Regions from separate parts of the Homo sapiens genome. Here region 1 is linked to region 2. Evidence: fine-mapped expression QTL. A gene starts in region 2. The other region holds a variant in brackets. All regions are shown on one strand. Distances are between the middles of the regions.

Region 1 (4,404 bases), 120 kb before region 2:
TTCATAAAACTCAACTTCTCGTTCCTATGACATTTTGGCATGAGATCTCATTAAAATTACAAACTAATACTGAAATGCTAGTTTTACAGTCTAAACAATGGAGATAAATTCAGATTAATATGCATCACAAAATGAAAAACAAGTGACACAATGAAAGTCTTTGTAGTCATGGTCAGCAACTGCAATTGTTAAAAGGTATTTATAATAGTTTTAATCATTCTTTTATGCTAAAACAACAAGACTGGACACTTCTGCTCAAAATTTTACTTCTGCATTGATAAACAAACAACAATTTCTTATTTTAGAGCCATTAATATTCCCACATTCTATTGTGGGTATTTTGTAAGGAAAAGTACGTATATTTTAGTCCAAGTATCAAATCTTGCCTTTCAATGCAACAACAACAACAAAAAAAAAAAAAAAAAAAAAGAAAAGAAAAACTAAAGCCCAGCCATTCTTTCCAGAGATACCCTGGTAACCAGCAATATAGAAACTTCTACTGGACTTAGCTTTGGAGAGGAAGAAGCAACTGCGAATTCCTCTATTTTGTCAAGAAATATGATAAAATAGAATTAGGAAAATATATAGTGTTTTTTAGACACTCAAAACAGTAACTTCATTCCTATCTTTTGCTTATGTTGCCAGCATCTAATTCTCCTTTTCTATTCCAACAAGAAAGCAAAATTCCCACTCTGAAGCCATAGTGAGGATAAACATTTCATTTGCTATCTTCTGTGACTTCTATGTAAATTTTTCTCTGTCATGTAAATGCATGAAGAGACTCTCATGCAATCAGATAACTCCATGGAAATACTACACCTACGCTCCCATTATAAATTGGGGAAGAATATGATGGTGAGGAAAGTGACACAGAATTATTCATTAGTTAAAACAAAGGAATGTGAAGTTGCTTTTAAAAGAGAAAAAAAAACTGAAAAGAATCTTAAACTCAGGGTGATTAAATAAAACTTTCATTTCCAGTCATGGCAGACATCTGTACTCTGTTGAAACATCCCTTATCCCCAAGTCCCTCTTCTTCTCATCCACCCTCCACAGATGACTTTGTTCCCAGGAAAATCGGTTCTTATCTCAAATTTGTTTAGGGACCATACATTTTATCCAGTTTTTAGGTAATAACTAATTTTTGGATTGTACAGATCAGTAGCTTATAATTCTCTCTTATACAAACTAAGCTCCAGAAGGCCATCATGTAAGACTTAGTTACTAACATCTGTAAGTACACCTGAAAATAAAAACAGACAGCTGGGCCATAAAAAATTGTTTTGTTTTGTTTTTTTTGTTAAAGCCACAAGAGATGTTAAAAAACTAAATTTGCCTTATTAGACATGTATATAACACATGATTCAGGAAAAAGCATTACTTATCTTTCAACAGAGCTGGTGAACACTTTGAGAGATGTTTTATGCAATTCCAGAATTTACCTTCCAAACAGTCAAAAAATATACCTTAAAAATGTTTCCCCCCCCACCAAGAAAATGTCCCACATATTTTGGTTAAGAAGACTGCATAAAACAAGGATTATATTATGTAACAAAAGTTACTTTAAAAGACATACATACTATCAGTTTCACAGGACAAACATAGTGAGTAAGGACAACAAACTCCAGAATGTGTTTTTATAACTGTAGCACCAGCAATAACTCCTTGGCAAACTCAAACAGTTTTTTTGGCAATCCTCGAAGTTTTCTGCATTTGTCACTTGGATACAACTGCGGAAGGGTTGTCTAAGACTTCTTTGTTTCCTTCCACACCATTTTACTATAACTTTGCTTTTAAGAAAAAAATTTTACATTTCAACCTATGTATGAATAAAATCCCACAAGGGGGTTTTATGCAAAATTCTTTATGCCTATGTACACCAAATATGGTTCCTATGTATTTTTTGCAAGGAGTTACCTTGTAAACTTTTAAAATGTATGCCAATAGAATATTATTTTTTTCTCCTTTAAGAAGATAAAATGAATTCTCTTTATGAATTAAAATTACCTACATATGCAAATGTAATAATTTCCTGTATATATACAAGTGGGTCTGCACATCTGTTATCATTATGAACATCTTTTAAAATAAGACCCCAAGGACAGGAGTGCTTTACTAACCTGCAGTGGTCTCTGTTTATCACTGCTCTTAGGAGATTTCAATCCACTTGTTTGCTGCTGTAAAAGAAGTTGTCTTGCTGCCTGGAGAGCCTAGAAGTAAAAATGAAACCTTATCTAAATATTTTGTTGAAAGTTAAGTTATCAATTATCTCTTGGTTAATAGTAAAAGGCTTCAATGTACAAGAACTCCCATATTCCTTTCTAGAGAGAATCATTGTTGTTTATCTTCTAATATGAAAAAAATTGCCAAACACACATATATAACTTTTTACTCCAAATCACAGAGAAACATGCAATCCTACAGGAAATAAAGTTAATTTGTTTAAAGTGCTTAAAGAGGATAAAAATCATAAACTGCATCAATAACCTCATTTCCACAAGGAACTTGTCTTTGAGTGTT[A/TA]ACTAAAATGCCCACTCCCTTTTAAATTATCATTCAATTTGCATTTTCATATTACAATTTTGAGGCAAAAGCAGTAGACTTCAAGTGTTACCGGAAGCTGTAATTAAATTTGACAAATCAACATCAGATTATCTTGAAAGTGAATTAATAAGGATTTTCACTAAAGATTAAAAACACTTTTTTTGTACTTACAATTCAAGGGGAAACCTCTCCTTTGACAAAATAAAGTGCAGTTTTAATGCCAAATAAAATTGAGTGGTTTTCATTTGCATTCTTAGCAAAATCAGAGAACAAAGAAATTACCACTCAACCAATCAGGTTTGTTTCTATGTGTGACAGAATACCAATCAAAATAGAAGATGTTTTCATTTATTTTTATGTTTTCTTTCCCACTTAGGAAAATAAAACTTAACATAAGAAATTAATGTAAGCATTTCATTTACTGGAGGAGGAACAGTTCAGTAAATGTACTATATAAACTTAACATATAAAAGCTAGTGCCATAGACCAAAATGCATAGTAAATTCTTCTAAAGGTAGGAGTATACACTAATTAACAAAAACTTTTAAGAGTCTCTTAAAAAATTCATTTTCTCTCTCAACAACTGAGTTCAATGAACACTAATGATGAAATTTTTCAACACATAAAACTAAACTAAATCATTGGCCTAATATGTTATTTACTGTTTTTGAATACAAGATAAATTTTTCACAATGAGAAAACATTATTGGATTAATATTCCTATATAATAATTAAGAATTTCAGCTGATAAAAAGTACAATTTTGATTGTAATCAATGATCTGGTTTTTAAGAGAGTTTCTAGTATCCATGACAACAGTTGCTTTGACAAGATGTGCATATGGCATTACACTGCCAGCTGGTGTGAACAATGTTTGAACTACTGCATTGAGATGCTGAGCAAACAGAAAAAGTTGCCACGTCTTAACCCTCAGGGAAGGCAGTCATCCCCTGATCAATTATGAAAAGACAGAGAGGGCTGCTACAGTCTGGCTCCAAGCAAGTTTTCTGAGAAGGCAGGCAGACATAGAAACCAAAGTAAACAAACTGAATGCACTAGCACCATCTCCTAACAACATTGATTTGTCTTCCGATAGCAGGATCTGGCATAGTTTGTAAAGCACACTTTTTACATTTGGAGACACACTCACTCACGATAATCATCTTTGTTGTTGTTTTTTAACTTTTCAAGTAATTACAAATTAACGTAAATATTTCTAAGGATGGCACATTCCAGTGAACTCAGGCTATTTATTATAGAGCTCAGTTTGAAAATACAAACAAAAAAATCTGTAATTACTTTATTATCACAAGGCTCACTATTTGAAACTTTTTATTCAATATTCTAAATAATATATCTTTCCTCTTTTAATTGTAACTTATAAAGTGACTACAAATGATAATTTTCCAAATGGAAATTACAATAGGTGTCCCAGGCTGTGTCTCTGAAATTCTCAAAATAAAAAATGCATTTGATTATTTTTCCAGTTAATGCCTAATTGTTTTCATGTAGTTTTTTTTTCTTTTCGAGTTGATGAGTTTATTTTGTATACCTGTTGCCTTAATTTATATTAAATTATGTAGTTATCTATTTATTATTCTTTAAAAAATTTATTGAACACTGTTTAGGATCTTAGAATCATGAATGACAAGGACTAAAAGCTATCTTGAAAATCATCTAATCTGACCTCCTTATTCTAGCACATAAGAAAAATGAAACGTAGAATAGTCAGTTGCTTTGTTCAAGATCACAAAGCAATTTATGAATGCTTTGTTCAAGGTCTGCTGGCTTCCAGGCCTGAGTGTATTCCAGTGTGCCATACTGTTTCTGTTCTGTCAAAGGAATCATTAGTAGGCAATGAGTA
Region 2 (4,404 bases):
TGCTTTCAGAATGGAGTTGGGCCAATTCTCTCTATCAACTAATCACAAACCTCATTATGCATAGGAGTATTAAATTATGAAGAAGCAGCATTCCACATTCCAGCACAAATCCCTATGAAATGTTAATAATATGCCCACAATAGCAGAATACCATGCCTTACTTGCCTTCATGAATAATAAAGTAAACAAATTATCTATCCACCTTTTACAAAGATTATTAGTATTTCAATGCATATAATTTTAGTGATCTTTAAAATAAAACGTGAGCATATTCTGTGAAATTTTACATGGGTTTAAAAAAAAAAGTCAAACAAGTTGTTTTCTAATAGAGCACCATATTTCTAAACAGATACCTGTAACCCTTCAATACCGTAATCTCTGTTAGGTATAGGACTCTGCTTTCCGTGAAAACCAACAGGCTAATCATTAAACCTCTCCACATATTCTCAAGTATACTTTGTTTCCAAACTTGTACAGCAGAAGGGCTGACTGTAAAGACAAATAAATATGCCTTTAAAAGGGCATTATGAATCAACTATAGATAATCAGATTTAAAGTCAGAACAGTTCAAAGATAAGGAACAATCGAAAATAAGAATGAAAGTTTTGTATTACACACACTATTGACGGTGAAAGTGATTCAAGATCTATTCTAAGCACACATTAAATAGAGTGCTTTTTTTTTTTTTTTTTTTGGTCGCGGAGGCTAGTAAACAAAAACCTGTCACTTAGGCTACAGTAAAGTGAAAATACATGGATGAAATTTAGGCGTTATTACCTGAAGGTGAAGAATGTCAAACTGGTCAGAGGAAAAAGCTGTTGGTGTTGCAGTAAGAACTTGCTCATGTCACTGGGAAAAGTGCAGCTATCTGTGTCATCCTCCGACTGTGTTTATACTGGCTTGCATCATAAACAAGCTCATCTTCCCTCATAGCTTGTTCATGCATACTTAAATCACCTTGCCCATTAAAAATGTCTCTCTTGACAATTATTCTATCATTTTCAGTTGTCATCAGGCAATTACTGTAGCCCTATGATGGGCCCAATAGGATCCCAGGTTCTGAGACGCTTTTTTGAAGCAGACAGAATGAAAAGTGCAGAAATGGTAATTTATAGCCCAGCCAAGCTACCTTTTTAACTGACACGAGTATTAAACTATCACACCTATTTGAAGAAATATAATGCAGTTTCTAAAAATTACTCATCAATTCACAATGTGTATTCCTGGAAATATATATATTTCTTCACAATCAGTGATTTGAAAAAGACCCACCAACCAATTTTTAATAAAATCATGAACATGCATATAAAACTACAAAGATCATCTGAGCCCTGACTCCTTTCATGTTTGTACAAGCTTAGCAAAAAGAGTTTCCCCTTTAGCACAAAATAAACATCTGCTCTACACAGCACGGCACAGAGAGGCACCCAAACGTGTGGTCAAACTCCCTTTTCAAAAACTTGCGCCCTGACACATACTGGGGCATTTACTAAAAGCAAGATGACATGGTTATTATCAAACCATGAAAGCAGGAACCCTGTCTTTATTCTTCTCAAGATCTTGCAGATTTTTTTTTAATACAAAAGAGGCCTTCTTTATTTGCTGTCTTTACTAGTGATAGCTTAAATCTACATTACGCTACTGACAGATCAAAAACAGTTCCTGTGTCTGGTCTCCCGGCTTTTCCCTCGCAAACAGATACAATGCTCTAGTTCATTTCAATGAGCTACAGTCTCAGAAAAAAAAAAAAGTAAAGCAATTGCCAAATCTACCAGTAAAGCAATCGTAAAATCCCACCCCTCTCTAAACTCTTACAGATATTCTCTTAGCAAAAAGTAACGTACCTTCTCTGGAAATGTTAGAGCAAACTTCCCGGTTTCAACTTCATAGGAGTTTGTTAAAGAGATGAAAAATTAGGAAGATTCAAAAAAGCCAGCACAGAAAACAGTATAAAAAGAAGGGAAAACTCAGAAGCTAGCTCACTGTCAAAGCCACCATCAGACAACTATTTACAGCAGTATTTACACTACTGTGAGTACACCTCTGCCCGATCACGTCCCAGACTGATGGCATTTTGTGCTGGTAATTAAAACAAATCAAGCAGCTCTGTGATTGTTTTGGCGTCCGTGGACAATCGTACACAAAATCAGCATTTAATCACTAGGGTATGTCTTTGGTGTGCAACGTGAGGGGTGACAAAGGTTCAAGACTGAGCCAGCATGCTTACCATAATCTTTCTAAAGTAAGTGCTTCATTTTTGTGTGTGTGTATGTGTGTGTGTGCATGTGTGTGAGTGTGTGAGTGTGTGTGTGAGAGAGAGAAAGACAGAGAGAGAGAGACAAAAGCACCAGTTTGAGTCTCTCAAGTCCTCGGTTAGCTTTCATGTCTGTGATAAATACACTTCTTGCTTCCCTTATTAGGACAAGCTTACCATTATACACTGCACTTTTGGTAAAGCTCCAGTGCTCTGCAATTTACAGCCAAAGGAAGTAGTTTACAAAAATAAGCAAACCCAAGACAAGCATTTCACAGCCACAACATCAGATAAGCCAGAAAGAAATAATCTTCAATGCACATCAAAACCACTTCACAATGACAATTTGTCCAAGCAGATGTTAATCAAGCTTCAGCCTTTGAACACTAGATACCATCAATTACTAACCTTAATTGAAATCACAGTTCTCCAGCTTCTCTGCCAGCATATTCAGAGGATGATGTATTAAGATATTTACAGTAAAGTAAACAATGCATAGTTGCAATGAAATGGAAAATTTTCAGCTAATGGTGTTTGTCAATCCTTTGTCAATTTTTCTGCCTGCCACAGATGTTTTCTTAGCTGTTTCACAAAAACAGGAATCAACTAGCAGAGAAGAAAGACTTTCTCTCCCCCAGGAAAAGAGTACAAAGCCAAGTCTGTACACAGCAGATGCAAAAGAAAGTCCATCTGCTACCAGCTCACAACACCACATGGAGTTTTAAGATTTTATACTGTAGGTAGCCTAGCAGGGTTTGTGTGGACCCCATAAGCATGAAAGGAAGAGAAATGGTAGCCTCAAACTGTTAAGGTAAAAACTACAGCTACAGAGACAGAATGAACAACTTACTGAAGCTGGTAAATCAAAGGTTTATTTGCAATAATTTTCCTCCTATTGCAAGAACTGACTAGTTTTTTAGGAGTTACACCCAAGACAGGAACGACACTGTCTTAGTTTTATGGCCTTTAACTCTGGGCAAGACAACTTGAACTCACAGGTCTCAGCTGAACACCATCGTGAGTGGACAAGCTTTAACAGCACCCCACCTACAACTTAATGTGAGACAAAACAACAGTTACTGAACAAAGCACTTCGAAGAGATCTTTAACCGGCCACCACTCCTGCCACTGACTTATCTTGTTTTAGTTTCTTCAGATGAGTAACATCTGCCACTACTTTTGTTGCACATTTAAATACTAAACAGAAGAGGGAAAGATGTATAAAGAAGTACTTAAAATAACTGCTTCTAATAGCCTTTAATACAGACATTTTGGGTAAGTAATTACAGCAAATTTCACATTTCACCTTCAACCCCTGAGGCTGCACTATTTCTCCACCTCCCCTGAAAGGAACTGAAAGCACTTATTCTTTAGCTCTGTGATACAAAACCGTTTAATATTCTGTTAGCAATTTTTTTCATTTTATAGTTAAATAATTCACTCATTAAAAGTATGTTTATATTGGTTTTTTTTTAAACCAAAATTTAAACACAGGAAACTCATGCAATAGGCAAGTACCTGTAAACATTTATTTTTAACATTTTTTTATCAGATTGTGAACAAAGCAAATGAAATTATATGAGCAATAGTAACTTATATTTTAAGGGAATTAAACAACTGCGAATATTCAAGTATCAGGAATATATTTTTTAAGTCTGCTTTGTTCATTTAAAAATTTTTTCTCCCAACTCTTCACAGTTTACAGGGCTTCCACATTTCAAAGAAACTGTGAATAATGTATACAATGACACAAATGACTTTATGTACTCCAGAGGAAATAAAGGATAGTTTCCATTATCACATCAGTCAAATAACATTTTCACACAAATCTGTTTACATTCACTAAAATGATAACATAATGCTCTTCAGCAATAGTGCCTTATCAACCTAGAAAGCAGTGTAGTAGCAATTAACATAAAATTTAAAAGCTTACACTCATTTTTACCAACAAAAGTTAAAAAAATTGATACCTCTGACATTCAAAAATATTGTTATAAATATGTAAATTCATTTTTTTAAGTAAAATATTTGCATCTCCTTTCCTCCTCCAGGCTTTTGAACTTCTGAGGTCAACAAGGACAAACAATACCACTAGTGTCTCTTTGCAAAAAGCTGGGTTTGCTGTCTGCAAGCAATGGTATCATTTCCAT

Which allele goes with the higher level. Alleles are on the strand shown, and positions count from the first base shown. SD is a standard deviation of normalised expression in the study named.
In carriers of allele A in region 1, the expression in subcutaneous fat of the gene that starts at base 2,390 in region 2 tends to be higher than with TA alone (small effect, 0.23 SD a copy in GTEx).

What was found. PIP is the estimated chance that this variant, and not a neighbour inherited with it, causes the effect.
Region 1: its variant is the best candidate, but not a certain one, in a credible set for the expression of FOXP2 in subcutaneous fat (GTEx, PIP 0.53).

Annotation. Positions count from the first base shown.
Region 1 is chr7:114,532,423-114,536,826 of GRCh38, reverse strand. It overlaps FOXP2 (forkhead box P2), which reads right to left. Exons shown (of 17, transcript NM_014491.4): 3 at 2,121-2,210. Among named protein-coding and RNA genes, the nearest start is that of MIR3666, 120 kb to the left of the region's middle. The variant A/TA (reference allele first, on the strand shown) is at 2,521.
Region 2 is chr7:114,412,801-114,417,204 of GRCh38, reverse strand. It overlaps FOXP2 (forkhead box P2), which reads right to left and starts at 2,390. Exons shown (of 17, transcript NM_014491.4): 1 at 1,845-2,390. RefSeq lists an enhancer at 1-413.